Homo sapiens: one gene and its partners. The protein of the gene in region 1 interacts with the protein of each later gene in a pairwise test. Each region holds a gene or a part of one and is shown in the gene's direction. Other genes may lie near its edges.

Region 1 (3,500 bases):
CCATGCCCGGCTAATTTTTGTATTTTTAGTGGAGATGGGGTTTCACCATGTTGGCCAGGCTGGTCTTGGACTCCTGACCCCGGGTGATCCACCTGCCTTGGCCTCCCAAAGCGCTGGAATTACAGGCGTGAGCCACCACACCCAGCCTGCTATAGCTTTTTCTTTGCTGAGATTTGTTTTTCCATTTGCTTTACTAGATTACTTGAAGCGCTTTTATAATGACTGCTGTAGCTTCCTTGTTGAAGAATTCCAGCGTCTGTGTCATCTTGGTGTTGGCATCTACCTATTATCTTTTCTCCTTCAAGCTCAGATCTTTCTTTTTTTTCCTTTTTCTTTTTTTTTTTTTTTTTGAGATGGAGTCTCGCTCTGTCGCCCAGGCTGGAGTGCAGTGGCACGATCTCAGCTCACTGCAAGCTCCACCTCCCGGGTTCACGCCATTCTCCTGCCTCAGCCTCCCGAGTAGCTGGGACTACAGGCGCCCGCCACCACGCCCGGCTAATTTTTTTTGTATTTTTTTGTAGAGACGGGGTTTCACCGTGTTAGCCAGGATGCTCTCGATCTCCTGACCTTGTGATCCGCCCACCTCGGCCTCCCAAAGTGCTGGGATTACAGGCGTGAGCCACTGGGCCTGGTCAGATCTTTCCGGTTTTTGGTTGTCAGGTTTTTTTTTTAATTGTATCCTGGACATTTTGGGTTTTATGTTGTGAGACTCTGGGCCCTATTTAATTTCCTCTTTTATAGATGGGTGTAGCATGCTGGTCCAGGTGGGGCTGGAAGTTCTGCTACCCCGTGGGTCCTGCTGAAGCCACCCCTTCATAAAAGCAAAGCACCAACTTTCACATGTCAAGTGCACCTTGAAAATGTATTACCTTTGCTGAATATTTGGTATGGCTTTTCTTAATGCTGTTTTATTACCATAGTGACAAGAATGGTGAGATTGACCACCACCGGGAACAGTATGAAAATCTAAAATGGACACTGGAGAGAAAACTTGAGGAGCTCGACGGTGAGCTTGCTCTGCAGAGACAGGTAGAGCCTCTGGGTCGGCCCCTTCCTGGGTGCTTTCCCTGCCTGCCCACTGTGAAACTGAAATCATATAGGGCTGAGGAAAAGACAACCATTTGGTTCATTGCCTGCATTCTCCTTGGGAGTAAAATGGGGTCTTTGGGGCAGATGCCACTCTGGGATGGTCTGCAGGGAAACAGGATGGGATGTCTACATGCAGCCACCTCCACAGTGTTTCCTTGTTTTCTTTCCTCATGGATTAGTCAGGGTTCTCCAGGGAAACAGGCAATAGGAGACGTGTAGATATATAGGAGATAAATTGTAGGAATTCACTCGTGCAGTTACGGAGGCCATGAAGTCCCACAGTTTGTCATCTGCAAGCTGGAAAACCTGGGAAGCTGGTGGTGTAATTCAGCCCAGGGGCAAAGGCCTGAGCACCAGGGAGCCACTGATGTGAGTCCTGGTCCAGCTCTGAAGGCCCAAGATGCAGGAGCCCAATGTCCAAGGGCAGGAGAAGGCGAGTGTCTCAGCTCAAGCAGAGAGAGCGAGTTCACCCTTCCTTGCATTTCGTTCTATTCAGGCCCTCAGTGGATTGAATGACGCCCATCCACAGGAGGAGGGCTAGTCTCTTCTGGAAACACCCTTGCAGACACTCCCAGAAATAATTTTTTACCAGCTATCCGGGCAGCCCGTAGCCCAGTCATTTGACACATGGAATTAACCAGCACACCTCAGAAATGATGAAACTTTTAAATTTATTTTTAGAAAGGTATAATTTTAAAAACATGAATTATTTACTATGGAAAAGAATTTGGAATTCAATTATGATAAGTTTAAAAACAGATGCTTCAACTGAAAAGTGGCAGTCACCGAATTTCTCCTCAATGTTCTGGAAACTCAGCCTACACCTCCAAGAGACTCAGCTGTGCTGGGGTTTTGTTGAAAGACATCCTATAGATTTATATCTAGAGACCACAGTCAGAGATGCTGCCACTGTGTGCATATGTGACAAGGGGCTGCATCTCTGCAGGTTTACGTGTGATGAGGGGCTGTGCCTGTGCAGGTGCAGGTGTCATGAGGGGCTGCGTCTCTGCAGGTGCAGGTGTCACGAGGGGCTGCGTCTCTGCAGGTGTCATGAGGGGCTGCGTCTCTGCAGGAGTCACGAGGGGCTGCGTCTGCAGGAGTCACGAGGGGCTGTGTCTCTGCAGGTGCAGGAGTCATGAGGGGCTGTGTGTCTGCAGGTGCAGGAGTCACGAGGGGCTGCGTCTCTGCAGGAGTCACGAGGGGCTGCATCTCTGCAGGAGTCATGAGGGGCTGCGTCTGCAGGAGTCACGAGGGGCTGAGTCTCTGCAGGAGTCACGAGGGGCTGCGTCTCTGCAGGTGCAGGAGTCACGAGGGGCTGCGTCTCTGCAGGTGCAGGAGTCACGAGGGGCTGCGTCTCTGCAGGTGCAGGAGTCATGAGGGGCTGCGTCTCTGCAGGAGTCACGAGGGGCTGCGTCTCTGCAGGTGCAGGAGTCATGAGGGGCTGCGTCTCTGCAGGTGTCCTGAGGGGCTTCTTCTGTGAAGGTGCAGGTGTGATGAGGGGCTGCGTCTCTGCAGGTGCAGGTGTAATAAATGGCTCTGTCTATGCAGGTAGGTGTAAGTGTTACTAGAAGCTGTGTCTATGGGGGTGTCATAAGGGGCTGCGTCTGTGCAGGTGCAGCAGTGATGAAGGGCTTTGTGCAGGTGTGACAGGGTCCCCTCTCTGGTCCTGTCGGATGTTGGGAGCTTGGTCATAGTAGGATAGGCCAGTGTGTCACTAATTTGCCACAGTCAGGTCAGCAGAGAAGGAGGCCACGCTCACGTCATGATGGGCCCTCCTGTGGACTGTCCAGTTGTCCCCGGAAGTGCTGAGCTCACTCCCGTTGTTCACAGGTCCCTGAGGCTGCTTCTGAAATGGCCTGCAGAGGACTTTCTCTTGGAATTCTCAGAAACCAAAGAGCTTTGTCGATTATGGATGAGTTTGAGAACAGCCGGAGTTCTTTAGGCATGAAGCCAGCGTCTAAAATCCGTGGTCAGTAAGAGACCAGTGGTGACTTTTCTAAGTAGTGAGGCTTCCTCAAGTGGCTCCAAAGTCACTTCCAAAGAAGGAGTTTGAGGAGGATCCAGCTGTGGGTGGTCCTGCCCAGCAGGTGGGGGGCTCTTGGCAGCATCTGGGGACAGTGGCGATTTGAGGCTGGTTGTAGTTGGCAGGGCGCAGCCATTCTTGTCAGAGTTTCTGGCTGGGCCGTGACTATGGCTGACTTCCCAGGCTGTCCACGCCGAATTTCTCAGACTCAGCAGGGCTCGTTCAGGGAGAGCCATCTCAGACGTTGGGAACATGGATTTTTTATCATGTTCAGATAGTATCCTTGTCTCTGGAAAGAAGGAAACGTGACGTTTTAACGTGGCAGCTTTGGTTACTAGGGGAAACTTGGGCAGCACACATCCGGTGTGGTTCTGGGTAGTCCGATCCT
Region 2 (3,500 bases), on another chromosome or scaffold:
GAAGAGAAATGGCCCCAGTTCATCACCCTTCTCTAGCCCAGCCTCCTCCCGCTCCCAGACACCGGAGAGGCCAGCAAAGAAAATAAGGTACTTGGCATTCTCCTGCAGTTTTCATTTGCTGCGTGGACAGGCGGGGGTGAGGAAAGGTGGGAAACGAACCTGGCTCTTAGGCTTTGTGCTGCTGTGACTTGGAGAATCAAAGAAACTTAAGTCCCTGAGAGGTACAATGCAGTACCCACCCGAAGTGCTGTCATCCCTACAGTCTTGGATACTGACTCCAGTGGCCTCTGGCTGTCGCCTCCCACTCCAGCATGAGGGATCGGGTGCAAGCACAGAGGCCATGCAGAGTGGAGAGCAGAGAGAGTCAAGTCAGCGGGCAGTCGCCTTCAGGTTCTTGACTCGAGCTGACCCCCTAGGTGCTTGCAGTTGGCTGGAATGCCACTCCCTCAGGGATCACATCTGTGTCTAGAACTCCCAGGGACTTGATAGGTTGTAAGTAAGGTTTGAAGATTATTGTTTTGTGCTTGTTTTAAGACAAAAGCTGTCTTCATGGCCTCTGTGAACAGCCTCCCTTCATTCTGTTGGAATTTCCTGTTGACTTTTTTTATCCTGGCATACTGAGATCTTAAATGATGGTTGTTTTAGACATTGGCCACTTGGTAGTTAGGAGGGTGTGAGAAATTATTTAATACTTCAGCCAAGAAGCCTTTCTAGACTAAATTGTTCCTTTTTTCCTGACAGAGAAGAGGAGCTGTGTCATCATTCCAGTTCTTCAACTCCATTGGCAGCAGACAGGGAGTCCCAGGGAGAAAAGGGTAGGTTGCTGAGCCAGGAGGAGGGGCTGCTGTTGGTGGTGGAGGTGTTTGTGGAGGATGTAGAGATTAATACCTATTGAAAAAAGGTCTTGAGCATTGCTATGTCTAAGGCATGTTAGATACAAAGAGAGAGATTTCCTCTCCTTCAGAAGTTTATAGTCTGATGAGGGAGAAAGGCTACAGACAGGGACTAACGATTGGATAGAGGTAAGCTCAGTTTGAGTCACCTGTGGGTGATCCCAGTAATTACTGCACAGTAAGCGGTTTGTGTGCGCGCCTTAATCTTGCAAACACCATCCAAGCAACCAAACCATAGAAGATTGAATCTTTTCAGAGATACCCATTGAAAACTCAATGTGAAATGCGAAGTGGGTAGACACAACCATCCATTTCTGGAAGAGGGAAGGAAGCAAACGAGTCTTGATTTCTTTCTTTAGCTGCAGATACAACCCCAAGGAAGAAACAAAACTCGAATTCTCAGTCTACACCTGGCAGCTCTGGGCAGCGTAAGCGGAAAGTTCAGCTGCTGCCTTCTCGGCGAGGGGAACAGCTGACCTTGGTATGGTCTTGTCCATCTACTCCTGCCCTCCCCGGCTTAGCTCTCCTAAGTATTAGGAACGCTAAGGACAAGTTTCTTCTGATTTTTTTTCTAATTTATTTTTGTTTTTGTTTTTTGAGACAACATCCCTCTGTCACCCAGGCTGGAGTGCAGTGGCTCGATTTTGGCTAACCGTAACCTCTGCCTCCTGAGTTCAAGCAATTCTCCTGCCTCAGCCTCCCAAGTAGCTGGGATTACAGGTGCTTGCTACCACGCCTGGTTGATTTTTTGTGTTTTTAGTAGAGATGGGGTTTCACCATGTTGGCCAGGCCGGCCTCAAACTCCTGACCTCAAGTGATCCAGCTGGCTTGGCCTCCCAAAGTGCTGAGATTACCGGTGTGAGCCACCATGCCTAGCCTTCCCGTTTTTTCTGATTGGCCTGACTTCTTCTTTTTCACTTTGGTAGCCTCCACCTCCCCAGCTTGGCTATTCGATCACTGCCGAGGACCTAGACTTAGAGAAGAAGGCTTCATTACAGTGGTTCAACCAGGCCTTGGAGGACAAGAGCGGTAAGGAGCACAGATTGTTGCACACTGGAGAGGTTTCAGGTGTCTGTTTTCTTTGGTTTTATTTTGGTGTTTGAAAAAATGGGTTTCTCTGGGAAAATCCCAAGTAGGGTTCCATGTTTTCTTGTGGTCTTTCTCACCTGAGATATCCGTGTTGGTCTTCACGGGAACTGGACAGCAGGGACCACTGCAATTGAGGGCAGGCATTCCTCCATGAGCTGTGCTGAGAGCCTGCTCTCCGACAGGCATGTGGAAAGAAGTCCCAGACAAGCCAGGACTGCTTCACCTTTCTTTCTTTCTTAGATGCTGCCTCGAACTCTGTCACTGAGACCCCACCTATCACTCAGCCTTCATTTACCTTTACCCTGCCTGCTGCTGCACCTGCCTCCCCACCCACCTCCCTCCTGGCCCCAAGCACCAACCCACTGTTAGAGAGCTTGAAGAAGATGCAGACTCCCCCGAGCCTGCCACCCTGCCCAGGTGAGCTGGAGTGGGGCCGTGGATCCAGCCTTCTGAGCAGCATCCCCGGCTTGAGTTGGAATAAGGGCGTCGTGCCTGTCAGTCGCTGGAGATTGCTCTGCAGGCCGAACGCACCCTGGCTCAGCACACCGGAGCGGGCCCACGTTTAACAGCGCCAGAGCCCGCATCAGGAAGTGTTAGAGAAGGGGTGCTGCGACGCTCAGGATCTGAAGCCTGGCTCGTAGCTGCCCTGAGCCTCGCCTTCCTCATCTGTCAGATGAGAATGATCTTCCCTGTGCGGCACCTCTGAAGTGTGAATGTGGTGGCGTGGTCAGGATATCCTTGCCTGTCAGAACCACTGGTCCAGAACAGCACTGCTTCCTTTCCCTCCAGCACTTCGAGGGCTGCTGGTGTTCCCGGCCCAGGCCTTCACGGCACTGCGCGCGCACACCTCTTTATCAGACGGTAACCTGGGGTTCGTACGCACCCTCCCTGCTCAAGGGCAGAGACTTCCCCATTCATAGTTGTGTGCTCTTAGCGCCTGGCAGGTGAGCTTAGTAGGCAAATAAAGTATATCTAGATTCATACGTGAACTTCAGAGTTCAGACAATTGGACTGTCTTAGTCTCTACACATTAGGCCCCCATTTAGGCCCCATTTTATCCCCTTCTGTCTGATGATCTGTGAGGTAGAAATAACACTTCCTTGATTTACTGTACAGGCCTGTAGTGTAGACTTAGCTGAGTTTATTGACTGACTCTTGGATCCCAGGCTCTGTGGTAGGCGTGGGGAGGACACTGAAATACTGAATACCATCATCTTTGAAGTGTTTATTCCAATTTCACATTTTCTATTCTTCTTCCAGAATCTGCTGGAGCAGCAACCACTGAGGCCCTCTCACCTCCAAAGACACCCAGCCTCCTACCCCCGCTGGGTTTATCACAGTCAGGGCCGCCAGGGCTGCTCCCCAGCCCCTCCTTTGACTCCAAACCCCCGACCACTTTGCTGGGGCTGATCCCTGCTCCATCCATGGTACCAGCCACTGACACCAAGGCACCTCCAACCCTTCAGGCAGAGACGGCTACCAAACCCCAAGCCACATCTGCCCCGTCCCCCGCCCCCA
Region 3 (3,500 bases), on another chromosome or scaffold:
AGTTAGCTGGGTGTGGTGTCATGTGCCTGTAGTCCCAGTTATTTAGGAGGCTAAGGCAGGAGGATCGCTTGAGCCCAGGAGGTCAGGGTGGCAGTGAACTATGATCACATCACTGCACTGCAGCCTGGGCGACAAAGGGGTACCCTGCCTCTAACAATAAATAAATAAACAAATAGCAGCATGACTGTGTACCTACTGTGTTCCTATTTGTTTATTTTGGCGGTTGAAAAAAGAATTTGAACGTTCCCTGTATCTTGGGGATGCTAGCAGACTAACCTTTTGTTTTCCTTTGAAAATAGGCACCATGCGGGCTGTGCGGAGACACCTGTTCCCCCAGCACTCAGCCCCTGGCCGAGGTGTCGTCTGGGAGTGGCTGAGCGACGATGGCTCCTGGACTGCCTATGAAGCCAGCGTCTGTGACTATCTGGAGCAGCAGGTGGCCAGGGGCAACCAGCTCGTGGACTTGGCCCCCCTGGGGTACAACTACACTGTCAACTACACCACCCACACGCAGACCAACAAGACTTCCAGCTTCTGCCGCAGCGTGCGGCGCCAAGCAGGGCCGCCTTACCCGGTGACCACCATCATCGCTCCGCCGGGCCACACAGGCGTCGCCTGCTCTTGCCACCAGTGCCTCAGTGGCAGCAGAACTGGCCCCGTGTCAGGCCGCTACCGCCACTCCATGACCAACCTCCCTGCATACCCCGTCCCCCAGCACCCCCCACACAGGACCGCTTCTGTGTTTGGGACCCACCAGGCCTTTGCACCGTACAACAAACCCTCACTCTCCGGGGCCCGGTCTGCGCCCAGGCTGAACACCACCAACGCCTGGGGCGCAGCTCCTCCTTCCCTGGGGAGCCAGCCCCTCTACCGCTCCAGCCTCTCCCACCTGGGACCGCAGCACCTGCCCCCAGGATCCTCCACCTCCGGTGCAGTCAGGTATCGTGGGCAACGGCCGCTCGTTTTGTCTGCCCTGTGTTTCCGCTCTTAGCCGGGAAGACTCACCCCAATTCCTGCAGATGCGGCTCCTGCCCCCTAGGTGGTCCTGCCGTGGCATCTCATTTGCATGTGGCATGTGGGTGCCGAGGTGCCGTGGCCATCCAGAGCCTACCTGACCCCTTGTACCTGAGTCCTGGCGGTCACCACACGGGTTAGAATCTACAGTCCTTTCACTCATGATGATTAAGGGCCTCCACATGGAGCAGAGTTAAAGGCCTGTGGCCTCTGCTTGCGGGCTGCATGGCGAGCATTGTGCCCGAGAACACTGGGTCACTGCCTGTACACTGACTCCCGCCTTGTGCCAGGCCCTAAGGACCCAGAGACCAGAGTATCAGCCCTTACCCCTGAGCCCTAGTCTAGTGCAAGGGGCTGTCAGCGCGGTGTGAGGGAGGGCAGAATGTGGAGCACGTGGCAGTGGCTGCAGGTGGCATGGGTGACCTGGCCCCCGTGATGATGCAGCCCAGCCCAGAGTGCCTGGTAGAGCGCTCAGCTCCTTGAGAGAGAGAGAATGATACCACGGGCCCAGTGCAGACCAGAGCGGGTGGCATTTAAAATGAGGAGATTGGTCAGGCACAGAGGCTGACACCTTTAATCCCAGCACTTTGGGAGGCCAAGGCAGGAAGATCATTTGAACCCAGCAGTCAGAGACCAGCCTGAGCAACATAGCGAGACCCCATCTCCACAAAAAAAATTTTTTTAATTAGCCAGGCATGGTGGTACACACCTGTAATCCCAGCTACTTGGGAGACTGAGGCAGGAGGATTGCTGGAGACCAGGAGGTCAAGGCAGCAGTGAGCTGTGATCGCACCACTGCACTTCAGCCCCCTAGGTGACAGAGCGAGACCCTGTCTTAAAGCTGGGCCCAGTGGCTCACGCCTGTAGTTCCAGCACTTTGGGAGGCCGAGGTGGGCGGATCACCTGAGGTCAGGAGTTCAAGACCAGCCTGGCCAACATGGTGAAACCCCATCTCTACTAAAAATACAAAAATTAGCCAGGCATGGTGGCCAGCGCCTGTAATCCCAGCTACTTGGAAGGCTGAGGCAAAAGAATCCCTTGAACCCAGGAGGTGGAGGTTGCAGTGAGCCAAGATCGTGCCACTGCGTTCCAGCCTGGGCAACAAAGAGCGAAACTCCATCTCGGGGGAAAAAAATAAAAAAGATAAAATGAGGAACCCCCCCAGGATTTCCCTGGATTTGGCCAAGGTGAATGGGCTGGCCGTAGCCCTCTGACTGTCTGGGTGACTTGGGGCTTCGTCATTCATTATTGAGAATGTTGGGCTTGGAGCACATTTTGAGAATTCAGAGTGGTAGCTGGGACAGGGCTTTCTGAGAGTGCCCTGGTGCGGGTGGTGAGGGAGTGGGTGGGCCTGGGGCCACCCTGGTCCCAGGGAGGAAATCATCTCCTTTCTCCGCACTGGCCCTGGTCGGCATCCTGCTGCCTCCCTGCTCACCGGCCCACCCCTGCCCACCGCAGCCACGTCAAGGGCTGAAACTTCACAGGGTGGTTGAGACCGCCTTGGCAGCTTCTTGGACCTCTAGTATTTGTTCAGACTGGGTTTCCGAGGACCCTGCCAGCTTGTGTAAGACACAGTGACAGCGCCTCCCGCTCATTGGTTCGTGTCATGTGCCAGGCCCTCCTGAGCAGGCTGCTTGAGTGACTTCACTCATCCCACGATGCTCTCAGGCTGAGCAGTGTTCTTCGCTTACAGGAGAGCACATTCAGGCCCATGAGGTTGGCGACACAGCCAGCAAGTAGCGGAGCTGGGATTCAGCCCAGACCCCAAGAGTGGGCTATCTGGGGCACATGGGGAGTTATTGACATTCCCGGGAAGGCAGGGGGCTCTTTTAATACATTTTAATTTTATTTTATTACTATTTTTAAAGACAAGGTTTTGCTCTGTCACCCAGGCTAGCGTACAGTGGTGCAATCATGGTTCACTGCAGGCTTGAACTCCTGTGCTCAAGTGATCCTCCTGCCTCAGCCTCCTGAGTAGCTGGGACCACAGGTATACACCACCACACCCGGCTAATTTTTCAGTTTTACGTAGAGGCAAGGTCTTGCCATGTTGTCCAGGCTGGTCTTGAATTCTTGGCCTCAAGCAATTCTCTTGCCCCAGCCTTCCAAAGTGCTGAGATTATAGGCATGAGCCACCACACCTGGCCCAAAAGGCCTCTTGAGGGATGAGCTAGGAGGAGGCCAGTAGACAGGAGGGTGATGGGCCTTGGGTGAGTCAGAGTTTTCCGGGGCATCTTCTGCCAGGAGTTGGGGCACGTGCATCTGAGATCTTTCTGGGAGTTGGGAGTATAGGAAGGTGTCATCGGGGCTCTCTGAGGACATAGACATAGGCAAGCCAGGCTCAGGGAGATGCTCCCCCAACTTCCCTCCCTGAGTATCTGGGTCAGCCTGTTTCAGAGAACAGTGTGCTCTATCTGCTGGCCCAGGAGGGTTCTTAGAGGTGCTGGGACTTCTGTCAGCCCTGTTCCACTCAGCTTCCTGGAGCT
Region 4 (2,504 bases), on another chromosome or scaffold:
TAGTCCAATGTCCTGGGATCCTCGCTTTTATCTTTGCTATCTGGAGAAGGAAGAGACAGCGGTAGTTCCCAAAAGACACAAACAATGGGGACATTTTAAACGGGAGTAACCAGCTAAGCACTCTGCTGCTGCTGCTTGTCTATTTGCCCTCTTGTCCTGCCTCAGGGTGAATTGTTGGCAGCTACAAATGGCAACCAAGAGAGAATGGAGTTGGGGCTTAGAAGTGCGGTAGAGGAATATGAAGGGGGCTGGAGTTGGAGAGGCTCTTAAAGAAAGAGCTGACTATATTGGGACTGGAGAGTTAATGTAAATCTCTTCTTGGTTCATGGGGATTTTGTTGTTATTGTTTTTTTCCCCATGACACAACTCTCAGGAGATCCTGAGAACACGTGCCCTGATTTGGGGGGGGTTTTAATTTTAACTTTTTTTTTTTTTTTTTTTTTTTGACAGAGTCTCACTCTGTCACCCAGGCTGGAGTGCGGTGGCGCCATCTTGGCTCACTGCAAGCAAGCTCCGCCTCCCGGGTTCACGCCATTCTCCTGCCTCAGCCTCCCAAGTAGCTGGGACTACAGGCGCCTGCCACCACACCCAGCTAATTTTTTGTATTTTTAGTAGAGACGGGGTTTCACTATGTTAGCCAGAATGGTCTCGATCTCCTGATCTCGTGATTCACCCGCCTCGGCCTCCCAAAGTGGTGGGATTACAGGCGTGAGCCACTGTACCTGGCCAAAATTTTTTTTTAATTAGAGACAGTCTCTTGCTGTGTTGCCCAGGCTGATCTCAAGCAGTCCTCCCACCTTGGCCTCCCAAAGTGCTGGGATTACAGGCGTAAGCTATAGCACCCAGCCTTCCTTCTTTCCTTAATTCTATTTTTTTTTTTGTTTGTTTGTTTATTTGTTTGCTTTTGAGATGGGGTCTTGCACTGTTGCCTGGGCTGGAGTACAATAGCGTGATCTCGGCTCCCTGCAACCTCTGCCTCCCAGGTTCAAGGGATTCTCCTGCCTCAGCCTCCCGAGTAGCTGGGATTACAGGTGCCTGCCACCATGCCTGGCTAATTTTTTGTATTTTTAACAGAGACAGGGTTTCACTATGTTGGCCAGGCTAGTCTCAAACTCCTGACCTTGTGATCTGCCCTCCTTGGCCTCCCAAAGTGCGGGGATTACAGGCATGAGCCACCATGCCCAGCCTTCCTTAATTCTATTAATATATGAATCCTTTTCTTTTTTTTAAAAAAAAGAGATAGACTCTTGATCTGTTGCTTAGGCTGGAGTGCAGTGGCACAAATCAGAGCTAACTGCAGCCTCAAACTCCTGAGTTCAAGCAATCCTCCAGCCTCAGCCTCCCGAGTAGTTGGGACCACAGTTGGGAACCACTACACTTGGCCCTACTACGGGTTTTTCCTGTTTGTTTGTTTTTTGTTTTTTTGTTTTTTTGTTTTTTTGTTTTGAGACGGAAGTTTGCTCTCGTTGCCCAGGCTGGAGTGCAATGGCGCGATCTCAGCTCACTGCAGCCTCCGCCTCCCGGGTTCAAGCGATTCTCCTGCCTCAGCCTCCCGAGTAGCTGGGACTACAGGCATGCACTACCATGCCCGGCTAATTTTGTATTTTTAGTAGAGTCGGGGTTTCTCCATGTTGGTAGTCAGGCTGGTCTTCAACTCCTGACCTCTGGTGATCCGCCCATCTCGGTCTCCCAAAGTGCTGGGATTACAGGTGTGAGCCACCGCGCCCAGCTGTTTGTTTTTTTGAGATAGGGTCTCACTCTGTTGCCCAGGCTGGAGTGCAGTGGCATGAACATGGCTTACTGCAGCCTTAACTTCCCAGGCTCAAGCGATCCTCCCTTCTCTGCCTCCTGAATAGCTGGGACCACAGGAATACACCACCACACCTGGCTGATTTTTAAATTTTTTGTAGAGCCAGGGTCTCTCCATGTTGCCCAGGCTGGTCTCAGACTCCTGGGCTCAAGTGATCCTCCCACCTCAGCCTCCCAAAGTGCTGGGGTTATAGGCATGAGCCACTGTACCCAGCCCCCTTCAGGGTCTTATCTTTATAAGGGGTGGGGGGTGGTCAGCACCTTTCTCATTGTTACCTCTACCTTCCCTAGGTATGTGCAGGTGAAATTTGTCTGCATTCGGACCCAATCAAACAGGAAGAGAACGCGGGAGGCAGACATGTGCCCAGCGTACTTGCTCCTAAGGTACAACGAGAGACTAGATAGACTATTTATCAGTGAACTAAACACACAGCACATACATGGTGACTCTAAAGTGGCTAGTCCTGGAGGAGACACCACTGGCAAATCTCAAAAGACAATGTGCCTGCAGAGACTCCAGCCTGTGCAGCCCACAACCAAAAAAGACCTTGACACTGCCGAGAAGTCCCTGGTTGAGCCATCGTTTTGCCTAGATAAGGTACAAGTGTCCTCAAAGCCAGAGCAGGAAGGCATCACTCCTTCTGACCTGGCCAAGATAGCAAAAGTGATGAAGAACTTTCTTAAGGTAGATGAGG
Region 5 (3,500 bases), on another chromosome or scaffold:
GCTGGGATTACAGGCGCCCGCCACCACACCCAGCTGATTTGTTGTTGTTGTTGTTGTTGTTTTTTGAAGCAGAGTCTTACTCCATTGCCCAGGCTGGAGTGCAGTGGTACGATTTTGGCTCAACACAACCTCTGCCTCCTAGGCTCAAGCGATTCTCCTGCCTCAGCCTCCCGAGTAGCTGGGATTACAGACACACACCACTACTGCCCAGCTAATTTTTGTATTTTTAGTAAAGACAGGGTTTCACCATGTTGGCCAGGCTGGCCTTGAACTCCTGACCTCAAATGATCCACCTGCCTTGGCCTTCCAAAGTGCTGAGATTACAGGTGTGAGCCAGTGCGCCCAGCCCTATATATCTTTTTATAGAGACGGGGTTTCACCATGTTGGCCAGGCTGGTCTCAAACTCCTGGCCTCAAGTGATCTGCCCGTCTCAGCTTCCCAAAGTGCTGGGATTACAGGTGTGAGCCACTGCTCCCAGCCTGTCATTATTAATTGTCACTTCTCTTCTTGAGCAGCTGCCAAGCCCTGGCTTCTGGGAATGGCTCTGCATTCCTTTATTTGTAAGGGCCCTGCGAGGCAGTTACAGTGTCCCCATTTTACCAATGAGCAGCTGAGCCTCAGAGATGCAGGCACCTGCCACGGGTCCCTTGCATTTTGGTTTGGTTTGGTTTCATTTGTGTTTTTTTGTTTGTTCGTTTTTTGTTTTTCTCCTTTGAGATGGAGTCTTGCTCTGTCAGCCAGGCTGGAGTGCAATGGTGCGATCTCGGCTCACTGCAACCTCCGCCTCCCTGGGTTCAAGCGATTCTCCTGCCTCAGCCTTCCAAATAGCTGGAATTATAGGCGCCCACCACCACGCCAGGCTAATTTTTGTATTTTTAGTGGAGACGGGGTTTCATCACTTTGGCCAGGCTGGTGTTGAACTCCTGACCTCAGGTGATCCATCCGCCTTGGCCTCCCAGAGTGCTGGGATTACAGGCATGAGCCACCGTGCCCAGCCTAGTTTGGTTTTTTGAGACAGGGTCTTGCTCTGTCACCCTGGCTGGAGTGCAGTGGTGTGATCACAGCTCACTGCAGTTTTGACCTTCCCATGTTCAGGTGATTCTCCCACCTCAGCCTCCTGAGTAGCTGTGACTAAAGGCATGGGATACCACGCCTGGCTAATTTTTTTATATTTCTAGAGACAGGGTCTCGCCATGTTGCCTGTGCTGGTCTCGAACTCTCTGGGCTCAAGCGATCCTCCCATCTCAGCTTCCCAAAGAGCTGGGACTACAGCTCACATGCCCAGCCCCTCTTTATCATTAATGCAGGGGTCATCTGAAGACATAGCAGGCTGAGTTTGGAGTGGGATGGATGGAGCGGGAGACATAAGACCAAGCTGTGGTGGCTGGAGGCTGGATGAGGGGCACAGTGATGACAGGCAAGGCCACCTCCTACCACCCGGTGAAAGGTGAAGGCTGGGCCTCCTGTTCTCAGGAGGTAGCTGCCAAGCGGGGACCCGAGTCTGCCGGCCTTCTGAGCAAGGAGCTCACCGCTGCTGAGACCCTCAATCCAAGCCATGTGGGCAGCCGGGGGCCCTGGAGGCAGCACATGCTGGCAGGTGCGGGGAGGGAGGGGCTGCGGAGAAGATGCTTCTTGGACCTTTGGCTGTAAGAGAAATGTCACTGCCGTGTCAGAACATACAGACTTAAAGACACAACGGTTGGCCAGGCACAGTGGCTCACACCTATAATCCCAGCACTTTGGGAGGCCGAGGCGGGTGGATCACTTGAGGTCAGAAGTTTGAGACCAGCCTGGCCAACGTGGTAAAACCCTGTCTCTACTGAAAATACAAAAATTAGCCAGGCATGGTGGTGGGCCCTGTAGTCCCAGCTACTCGGGAGGCTGGGGCAGGAAAATCGCTTGAATCTGGCAGGAGGAAGTTGCAGTGAGCCGAGAGCGTGCCACTGTACTCCAGCCTCGGCAACGGAGACATTGTCTCAAAAAAAAAAAAAAAAAAAAGGACACAGCGCTCTTTACCTAGAAAACCATCGAGTCAGAAACCGTGCGGACGAGCGAGGTGCTACGGAAGAAGCTTGGGGAGCTGACGGGCACCGTGAAGGAGGTAACAGTTCCACGCCCGCCTGGAGCCGCTGGGGCCATCAAAGTCCCCTGGCCGCTGGAGGCTGGAGGAAGAGTCGGCTCCTGGGTGGGGGTGGCTTGGCAGCAGTGGGTGGCATGGGGCGTGCTGCCACCCTCGGGAAGGTTTCAGGAGTTCCCGGCACATGCAGGGTGAGGTCAGACTGGCAACCTTGCATGACCGTTGACCCAGGGAGTCGGCAGCAGTAAGTGCTGCTAGCCAGGACTCGAGGAGAACATGAAAATGTTTTTCCTGCCTAAAAATAGGAGGAGAGGGGCCGCTTCCACCCCCTCCCGAGGGTAGAGGCGGGAGGCAGGATTCCTGGGGTGCTGCGGCTCTCCTCGGTTGTCTGTTCTGTCCAGCTTTGCGCAGCATGGGGCGCCCTCACCGCCGTTCTTTCCCCGGGGTCCCCTCCTTGGGAATCCTTGCTGCCAGGCAGTTCCCGGGTCTCCAGAGGACTCCTGCCCATTTTGGAAAGGGGCCAGCAGACCCAGCGTCTCACCCAGAGCCCAGGGCCAGCATCCCGGAAGCCGTGGCGGTGTGCTCATGGCTCTGGGGGTGCCGGTGTGCTCATGGCTCTGGGGGTGCCGGTGTGCTCGTGGCTCTGGGGGTGGCGGTGTGCTCGTGGCTCTGGGGGTGCCGTTGTGCTCATGGCTCTGGGGGTGCCGCGTACCACAGGAGCACAGAAGGCCTCTGCCGGCCTCGGGGAACCAGATCCGCCCTTCTCTCCGGCAGGAATTCATTCCTCCTGCCCCGCCCCCCGGCCGCCAGGGCCGGTGCCAACGCCCCCTCTCTGTGTCTGTCTCAGTAGAGCCTTCACGAAGTCAGTAAAAGTGATCTCGGCCGGAAAATCAAGGAGGGCGTGGAGGAAGCAGCCAAGACGGCCAAGCAGTCGGCCGAGTCGGTATCCAAAGGCGGGGAGAAGCTGGGCAGGACAGCGGCCTTCAGAGCCCTCTCCCAGGTGAGCCCAGTCCTGGGCTAGGGCATGCAGCCTGGGGCGGCCGAACCCAGACACCCACCCCAGCCCCGCTGTGCCTCCCTCGCAGGGGGTGGAGTCCGTGAAGAAGGAAATTGACGACAGCGTCCTGGGACAGACCGGGCCCTACCGGAGGCCCCAGCGACTCCGGAAGAGAACGGAGTTTGCGGGAGATAAGTTCAAGGAGGAGAAAGTGTTTGAGCCAAACGAGTAGGTACCAGCCCGTGGCCCTCGCTGCCCCCATTTTGGGCAGCTTTCACTGCTGTCCATTTCGGGAGCCCACCAATGGTTCCCTCCTGAGTCCGTTTCTTGAGTTTGCCTTCTGCCCAAGGTTCCCGGCTCCCTCGAATTTGAGGGTGAGAGGTGAGGGCGGGGTCCTCAGAGCCCCTAGGTTTGAGGTCTCAGCT
Region 6 (3,500 bases), on another chromosome or scaffold:
TACTTTTTTCTTTTTTTTTGAGACGGAGTCTTGCTCTGTCGCCCAGGCTGGAGTGCAGTGGTGTGATCTCGGCTTACAGCAAGCTCCACCTCCCACCATTCTCCTGCCTCAGCCTCCCGAGTAGCTGGGACTACAGGCGCCCCCCACCACGCCCAGCTAATTTTTTGTATTTTTTAGTAGAGATGGGGTTTCACCATGTTAGCCAGGATGGTCTCCATCTCCTGACCTCGTGATCCGCCCCCCTCGGCCCCTCAAAGTGCTGGGATTACAGGCGTGAGCCACCGCACCCGGCCGATGGTGTTCCTGTCTTTAGGGAACCGTGGAAGAAACTGTTGTCTGGTGTCAATATCCCTGTGCAGTCACTTCTGCACTAGAATTGCTTTTCCACTAATAGAGCTCCTCCTGTTTCCTTCTTTGCCTTGGGAAGTTCAGAGCCAAATCTGCTTTGACTAACCAGACTAAGGCTTCATGGCAAACACTTTGTGTCTAATTTTCTCTTAGCTTCATTTTTCTCGCTATAAAGAAAAATCTTGCCTTATTAGAGGACCTTCACAAGACACTTTAAAGGCTGTGGGACAAGGCAGGGTACAACTAAAAGTGGCACCAACTCTAACCACAGATTAGTATGGGCTCTGGCTGGAAAATAAGACAGACAAATAAGCCAGTCAACACAAAACCCGCCAAGCCAGTCTCCAGCTGGGGATTTCCACTCTTGTGTCTTTATGTGGCCTCAGTCGGTTCAGCCTGTGTCTCATTGTCAGCTGTTTGAGCCAAATTCTGGATGAAGTGTTTTCCTAGGCATAATGGGTGTTGTGCTTTAAGAGAGGCAAGATGCACAAAGTGTTACATGTAATTGTCTCTTTTTAAATAATGGTCGTTTTTAAGGCTATGGAATACAAAGGAATCCTTCCATGGAGAAGCATGCTATTCTCACATCAGAAAACGGTTTCAGGGCTTTGTCATCTTTTTTTTTCAAATTCTCTTGGGCCACAGCTAATGATTTTAATCATTCACCGTTCCCACCTTCTATGTGTTCATTCGTTTATTCATCAATATGTACTGAGCCAGGTCACTTGCTGGACATTAGGAGCTCACAGTTGGGTGGGGGACTTGCTCAGAAACAGTTATTTACAATACAGCTTAAACAATTTTGTAAATATGAAGCTAGCAAAATTATGTCCAAGAAATGTCTGACACTCTCTGGCTGGGAGAAGGATGCAGTCTGGGAAGACTTCTAGGAAGAGGTGATGGTAGGGTTGGGTGCTGGACAATGAGTAGGAGCACACTGTATATAGAGAGGACGCAGAGAGGACAGACAGGAACTGTGTACATGTGAGAGCTTGACAGGCTGGGGAACCAGCTGGGGTGCAGCCTGACTTGAGGAGAGGTGAGGGTATAAGGGTGGGGGGATTGAGAGACACAGCTGGATCCATAGGCCATAGTTAGTTCATGAAGGCCTTATGTGCCATGGAGTTCAGACTTTGTCCTGTAATGAGATAGGAGACAGGAATGTTTGTTTGTTTGTTTTTGAGACAGGGTCTCACTCTATTGCCCAGGCTAGAATGCAGTGGCTCAATCTCAGCTTACTGCAACCTTTGCCTCCCAGGTTCAAGGGATTCTCCTGCCTCAGCCCCTGGAAGAGCTGAGACGACAAGCACGTGCCACCATGCCCAGCTAATTTTTGTATTTTTAGTAGAGACAGTGTTTCACCATGTTGGCCAGGCTGGTCTCAAACTCTTGACCTCAAGTGATCTGCCCACCTTGGCCTCCCAAAGAGCTGGGAGGTGTGAGCCACTGCACCCAGCCCAGGGGAGTGTTTTGAACTGAGGGATGAAAGCATTCACATGGTCAGATTAGTGCTTTAGAAAAGTCACTTTAGAGATAGAGTGGAAGATGGACAGAGGAGGCCAGGATGGGAGGCTGGAAGAGAACTTGGGAGGAGGCCACAATGTCCAGGAGAGAGATGATGGTGGCCTGGACCAAGACAGGGGCAGTGGGGATGGGGAGAAACAGGCAGGTCAAGAGATGCCACAGGAATGGAGATTGGAATTGGAGAATGGGTAGGAGGAATCCCCAGATGATGCCTGGGTTTCTGGCCTGAGAGATGAAGGGCTGGGATTTCTGTTCTCTGAGTCTGCAAAGGCAAAAAAGTGGCTGTGCTCGGTTTCATGCATTGATTTATTCCATCATACATATGTTTTGAGAACCTGTGTGTCAGGTCTGGTGCTAGCTGCTGGAGTTTGGGGTTACCAGGTGGTGCCATGTGTCCTCTATCGACCCCTCATCCTACCCTACTCATCTGCCCTCTGAGCCCCCTCTCGCCTCCCCGGAGCTGCTCCCTGCCCACCCTGGACTTCCTGCTAGTGCTTGGTCTCCCCTGGCCAGCTCCATTCCAGCGCTCTGGGTGTGACCTTAGGCCTGGTTCCCCACCAAAATGAGGTTGGACTCTATAGACTCCTGGCCTCCTAGGCTGAATGGGGCTTGCAGGCCATCTCACAGCCCCCTCCCAATGTACAGCATGCTGCCAGGTGGGATCTGCCCCTGCCCAACAGCCAAGTGCTAGGCCACCCTCCCTCCCTCCTGAGGCCCTCATCTGTCCACCCCTTCTCGGGTGGGCAGCACTGCCACTGCCAGCCAAGCCTGATCACCTGAGGCAGTCATCTTCCTTCCAACTCCTGGCCAGGACAGAGCTTCAGAAAATGCAGCCATGGTTCTTACCTGCAAACATGAGAATCCACTGGAACTGTTTTAAGCAAGAAAGGAGTTTATGGAAGAGTATGAGATAGCCCATAGGATCTCCAGGAGGGCCAGAGAGTCGGGATGGAAGATGGGCAGCAGGAATGAAGTCCAGACTCCAGCAGGGGTTGGTGCCAGTATAGGCCCCACGGCACCCCTGCTGGGCAAGACATCACCACTCACACCACTGACCAGAGCCCCCACCACTGCTGTCCCTCAGTGCCACATGCCACCATCACTACCTTCACCGTCATTTCCAAATCCACGCTTTGGCTTGGAGGCGTCTGGTCACACTCCTGCAGCACAGGTGCAAAGGGAGCTGGGAGAGGGGGTTTTCTAGCTTCTCCTTAGTGAAGCCACATACCACAGGAAAGTATTGAAGAGGGGCTGTCCAGGTGCAAAACAGGACACATGTCCCCTGCGGTGGCCACACCCCCTCAGTCAGCACTGCAGCTGAACCTTGCTGGCCTTTGGCGTCCTTCTTAGAACATGGTTTCCTGCTCCACCTTTGAATAAGCTCCAGGTGCTCCTTCCCCAGGGAGACTGACCTCTCACCCTTTTTGTACCCAAGGCAGACCCGTGGCGCAGTGTGTGTGAGGCTGAAGCCTCTCTGGGAAGGGCCCCGTGTCAGCCTGACCCTGCCTTCTGCATGCATAGCTGGCACAGAGTAGGTTTCAATGAACACGTAAGGAAGGAAGGAAAGGAGGAAGGATGGAGAGGGAGGAATCCCCAGTGCCAGCACTGAAAAACCGCACCTCCGCATG
Region 7 (3,048 bases), about 42 Mb from region 1:
AGAATTGCTTGAACCTGGGAGGTGGAGGTTGCAGTGAGCCGAGATCGCGCCATTGCAATCCAGCCTGGACAACAGAGTGAGACTCCATCTCAAAAAAAAAAAAAAAAAGAATGTTTTAAGGAAAAAAATAGTACTGTTACATATAATCCCAGGTGATAAGACCACAATGGAAATGTTTAAGTCCTCACTTTAAAGAGTACCCCACTGAGAAGAGGTATGTTGGACTCTAGCAGAGATTTGGAAACTCTGGGACACTCAAGATGTGAAAGAGCCTGGCTATCTGAGGACTCAAAGAGTCAGCATCGGGACTTGTGAGCTCAAGAAGAGAAAAGGGAGTGGTGAAACTTTGTCCTAAAAGTTAGCACCAGGAACAGAAGAAAAAAACCCGATATATAGTGATACCTCATCTTTTAGAGAATGGGAAGCTATTTTTGTGTTCACACAGAAAGTATAGTTCAAAAAACCTCTATATCCAGAGTTCAGACAAGGAGAATGATTTGAGATATAAGTGCCGATGAAGGAGGTCAATTTTGATCTGAAACCAGCAGCTGGACCTGGGCCACCTCAGGAAAAGGACTCTGTTCTCCAAGGCAGCACGACTGAATGGTTCTGAGAATAAGCCAGGGTTCAGGACTCCTGACCCTTTAGGACCATGGACTCAGAAGAGCCTGAAGGACAATTGTGGGCTTTAAACTTCTGAGAGCTTGTAAAGTAACACAAGACTGTGCCTCTCCCTTGCCCCAGCTGTAGATAGTCTTTGCCCCACCATTGTTATGAAGATACACAGGGTTTTGCAGTTTGAATAAATTGGATACAAGTTTCCTCTTTTTTTTTTTCTTTTTGAGACAAAGTCTCGCTCTGTTTCCCCAGGCTGAGTGCAGTGGCACAATCAAGGCTTACTTGCCGCCTCAACCTCCTGGGCTCAAGCAACGAGCCATCCTCCCGTCTTAGCCTCCCAACTAGCTGAGACTACAGGCGTGGGTCACCACACCCAGCTAATTTTTGTACTTTTTGTAGAGACAGGGTCTCACCATGTTGCCCAGGCTGGTCCTGAACTCCTGGGCTCAAGTAATCTGCCCACCTCAGCCTCCCAAAGTGTTGGGGTTACAGGCGTGAGGCACCGCGGCTGGCCTGAGTTTCTTCTTAATACTGTATCACAATTGTGGGCTGTCTTATGTGTTGATATCGATTGAGCTATTTGAAATAGGAATGTTAATGGGTGTATTAAATTTTTGTAAGGATATAACAATATCTACCTTCCAAGGATGTTGTGAGGTTTTCCATGATTTTGTATATGAGCTAATGTTACCTTTGAGGGGTGGTGTGCATTATGTTGGATGATTGTAAATTTTCAGTGGAAAATGTACCGTGTCCTAAATTTAAAGACATGAAAAATATCCCAAGATCATACTAGATCATAATAGCAATTCCTTTACAAATGAATTATGGAGGTAACTGATCTCTAACAGTTTCCTTCATGTTGTTTTAATGCACAAGGGCAGAGGATCTGCTGACCCTTGGAACCAGCGTGAGCTAACCACGTGCTATAGACACTTCATGGTGTCGCACCCAGGGAAGTCAAAGCGCTTTGCTCCCTCACTGTCTGTGAGTCCTCAGCCATTAGTACCCCACCCCCCGCTGCTCCAAAACTTGAGTTATTTCAAATGTTTCTCACTGTTCATCTCTCCACTGACCCCACTCCAGAAAGCCTGGAGAGAGTCCCAAGATGCCACCCACCTTCCCCAATCCCTCGCCACAGATCTGTGTCTATCTCACACTCTGTAAGTGCCGCTTTGCTTCTTCCTCTCTTGAAAAGACTGAGAACACACATTTTAACATGTTAGGAAAATGGGGCAGCCTAAAAAATGACTGATCCCACCGCCAGTGACTCATGTATACTCCAGGCTAGCAGACAAGGCCCTTTTTGGTGGGCCTGCTTCTGTGGGTTCACAGAAACCAAATTACTGTGGGTTGCAAAGAATTAGCAGGTCATTTACAAAGCAGACATCCCTTCACCCAGACTGTGGTTTTGCATGCTCAGGTTCTCAGTCTATGAGCTTTGGTGCAGGATCATTTTGGCTACTGGAAAAACCATAGCTTATTTTAAATTTCTGGTTGCCAAAGCCACCACACGTGTGGTCTGTGGATGACCATTGTCTGCAGAATGACGAGGAAGGAACAGAATGTGGTTTGGGGCTCAGGGTGGCCTTCCCACTGGGAGGGAAGGCGGGAGGGAGCCCTTGCCCTGGGTTTTGACACAGCCTGTGCTCACAGCCTCTCCTCTCATCTGCATTTCTCAGAAATGCCCTCCCTGCCCAGTGGTGACTTTCCCTCGTCACTCCTATGGAGTTCTACCTGGAGCCCAGCCATGTGTGGAACTGTGAAGTTTACTCCTCTGTAAAGATGGTTTAAAGAAAGTCAGCTTCTGAAATGTAACAATGCTAACCCTTGCTGGAACCCTGTAAGAAATAGCCCTGCTGATAGTTTTCTAGGTTTATCATGTTTGATTTTTACACTGAAAAATAAAAAAATCCTGGTATGTTTGAAATTAGTCCTTGTGCATCCTTATCACTTATGATTTGTGTCTGCTGGTGTCAGGATGTAGAAGGGTTTCATCCCGCCCCAAGGAATACTTTCTTAATTTTGCCCCTCTATTTCTTAAAGTCCAGTTATCAAGAAAAATGAATTATCACTGAAATAAAGGTTCTCACCTGACGCCTTGCTGAGCCTACCACTGTGATCCTGCTGCTGGCCCCTGTAACCCACAAGATAGGGTTCCTGGTTCCACTGGTCCTTAGTTCACTAAGGAAACTGGAGGAGGTTGAGGACCTGGACTTAGCATGATCAGCACATTCAGCATGGTGCACCCCTATTCCAAGTCACTGCTCTGCCTTCCTCCCTCAACAGAGATTCTTCTTAAAATACAGTCAAGTTCTGACTTTTTCATGTGTGGGGGCTCACAGACATCCACATTGGGAAACTTGAGTTGCAGTCCTTAAACTCGACCATATTTAAATACAGTTTTTAGATACCTGGAGACCCAAACCG

Evidence for each region.
Region 2: the proteins of CCDC57 (region 1) and POM121 interact in binary tests that used the Homo sapiens proteins (3 or more experiments, as listed by UniProt).
Region 3: the proteins of CCDC57 (region 1) and DTX2 interact in binary tests that used the Homo sapiens proteins (3 or more experiments, as listed by UniProt).
Region 4: the proteins of CCDC57 (region 1) and ZSWIM3 interact in binary tests that used the Homo sapiens proteins (3 or more experiments, as listed by UniProt).
Region 5: the proteins of CCDC57 (region 1) and TIMM44 interact in binary tests that used the Homo sapiens proteins (3 or more experiments, as listed by UniProt).
Region 6: the proteins of CCDC57 (region 1) and TRIM14 interact in binary tests that used the Homo sapiens proteins (3 or more experiments, as listed by UniProt).
Region 7: the proteins of CCDC57 (region 1) and IKZF3 interact in binary tests that used the Homo sapiens proteins (3 or more experiments, as listed by UniProt).

What each region holds. Positions count from the first base shown.
Region 1 is NC_000017.11:82,195,843-82,199,342, reverse strand, and holds part of CCDC57 (coiled-coil domain-containing protein 57), read left to right. Parts: intron 1-918; exon of another isoform or gene 919-920; coding exon 921-1,029; intron 1,030-2,246; exon of another isoform or gene 2,247-3,500. UniProt on the Homo sapiens protein: Pleiotropic regulator of centriole duplication, mitosis, and ciliogenesis. Critical interface between centrosome and microtubule-mediated cellular processes. Centriole duplication protein required for recruitment of CEP63, CEP152, and PLK4 to the centrosome.
Region 2 is NC_000007.14:72,938,595-72,942,094, forward strand, and holds part of POM121 (nuclear envelope pore membrane protein POM 121), read left to right. Parts: coding exon 1-87; intron 88-741; coding exon 742-815; intron 816-1,252; coding exon 1,253-1,374; intron 1,375-1,819; coding exon 1,820-1,922; intron 1,923-2,222; coding exon 2,223-2,399; coding exon of another isoform or gene 2,400-2,417; intron 2,418-3,242; coding exon 3,243-3,500. UniProt on the Homo sapiens protein: Essential component of the nuclear pore complex (NPC). The repeat-containing domain may be involved in anchoring components of the pore complex to the pore membrane. When overexpressed in cells induces the formation of cytoplasmic annulate lamellae (AL).
Region 3 is NC_000007.14:76,482,209-76,485,708, forward strand, and holds part of DTX2 (probable E3 ubiquitin-protein ligase DTX2), read left to right. Parts: intron 1-299; coding exon 300-939; intron 940-3,500. UniProt on the Homo sapiens protein: Regulator of Notch signaling, a signaling pathway involved in cell-cell communications that regulates a broad spectrum of cell-fate determinations.
Region 4 is NC_000020.11:45,874,614-45,877,117, forward strand, and holds part of ZSWIM3 (zinc finger SWIM domain-containing protein 3), read left to right. Parts: intron 1-2,100; coding exon 2,101-2,504.
Region 5 is NC_000019.10:7,933,667-7,937,166, reverse strand, and holds part of TIMM44 (mitochondrial import inner membrane translocase subunit TIM44), read left to right. Parts: intron 1-2,021; coding exon 2,022-2,102; intron 2,103-2,928; coding exon 2,929-3,078; intron 3,079-3,163; coding exon 3,164-3,303; intron 3,304-3,500. UniProt on the Homo sapiens protein: Essential component of the PAM complex, a complex required for the translocation of transit peptide-containing proteins from the inner membrane into the mitochondrial matrix in an ATP-dependent manner.
Region 6 is NC_000009.12:98,095,223-98,098,722, reverse strand, and holds part of TRIM14 (tripartite motif-containing protein 14), read left to right. Parts: intron 1-3,500.
Region 7 is NC_000017.11:39,757,218-39,760,265, reverse strand, and holds the end of IKZF3 (zinc finger protein Aiolos), read left to right. Parts: 3' UTR 1-2,548; downstream 2,549-3,048. UniProt on the Homo sapiens protein: Transcription factor that plays an important role in the regulation of lymphocyte differentiation. Plays an essential role in regulation of B-cell differentiation, proliferation and maturation to an effector state.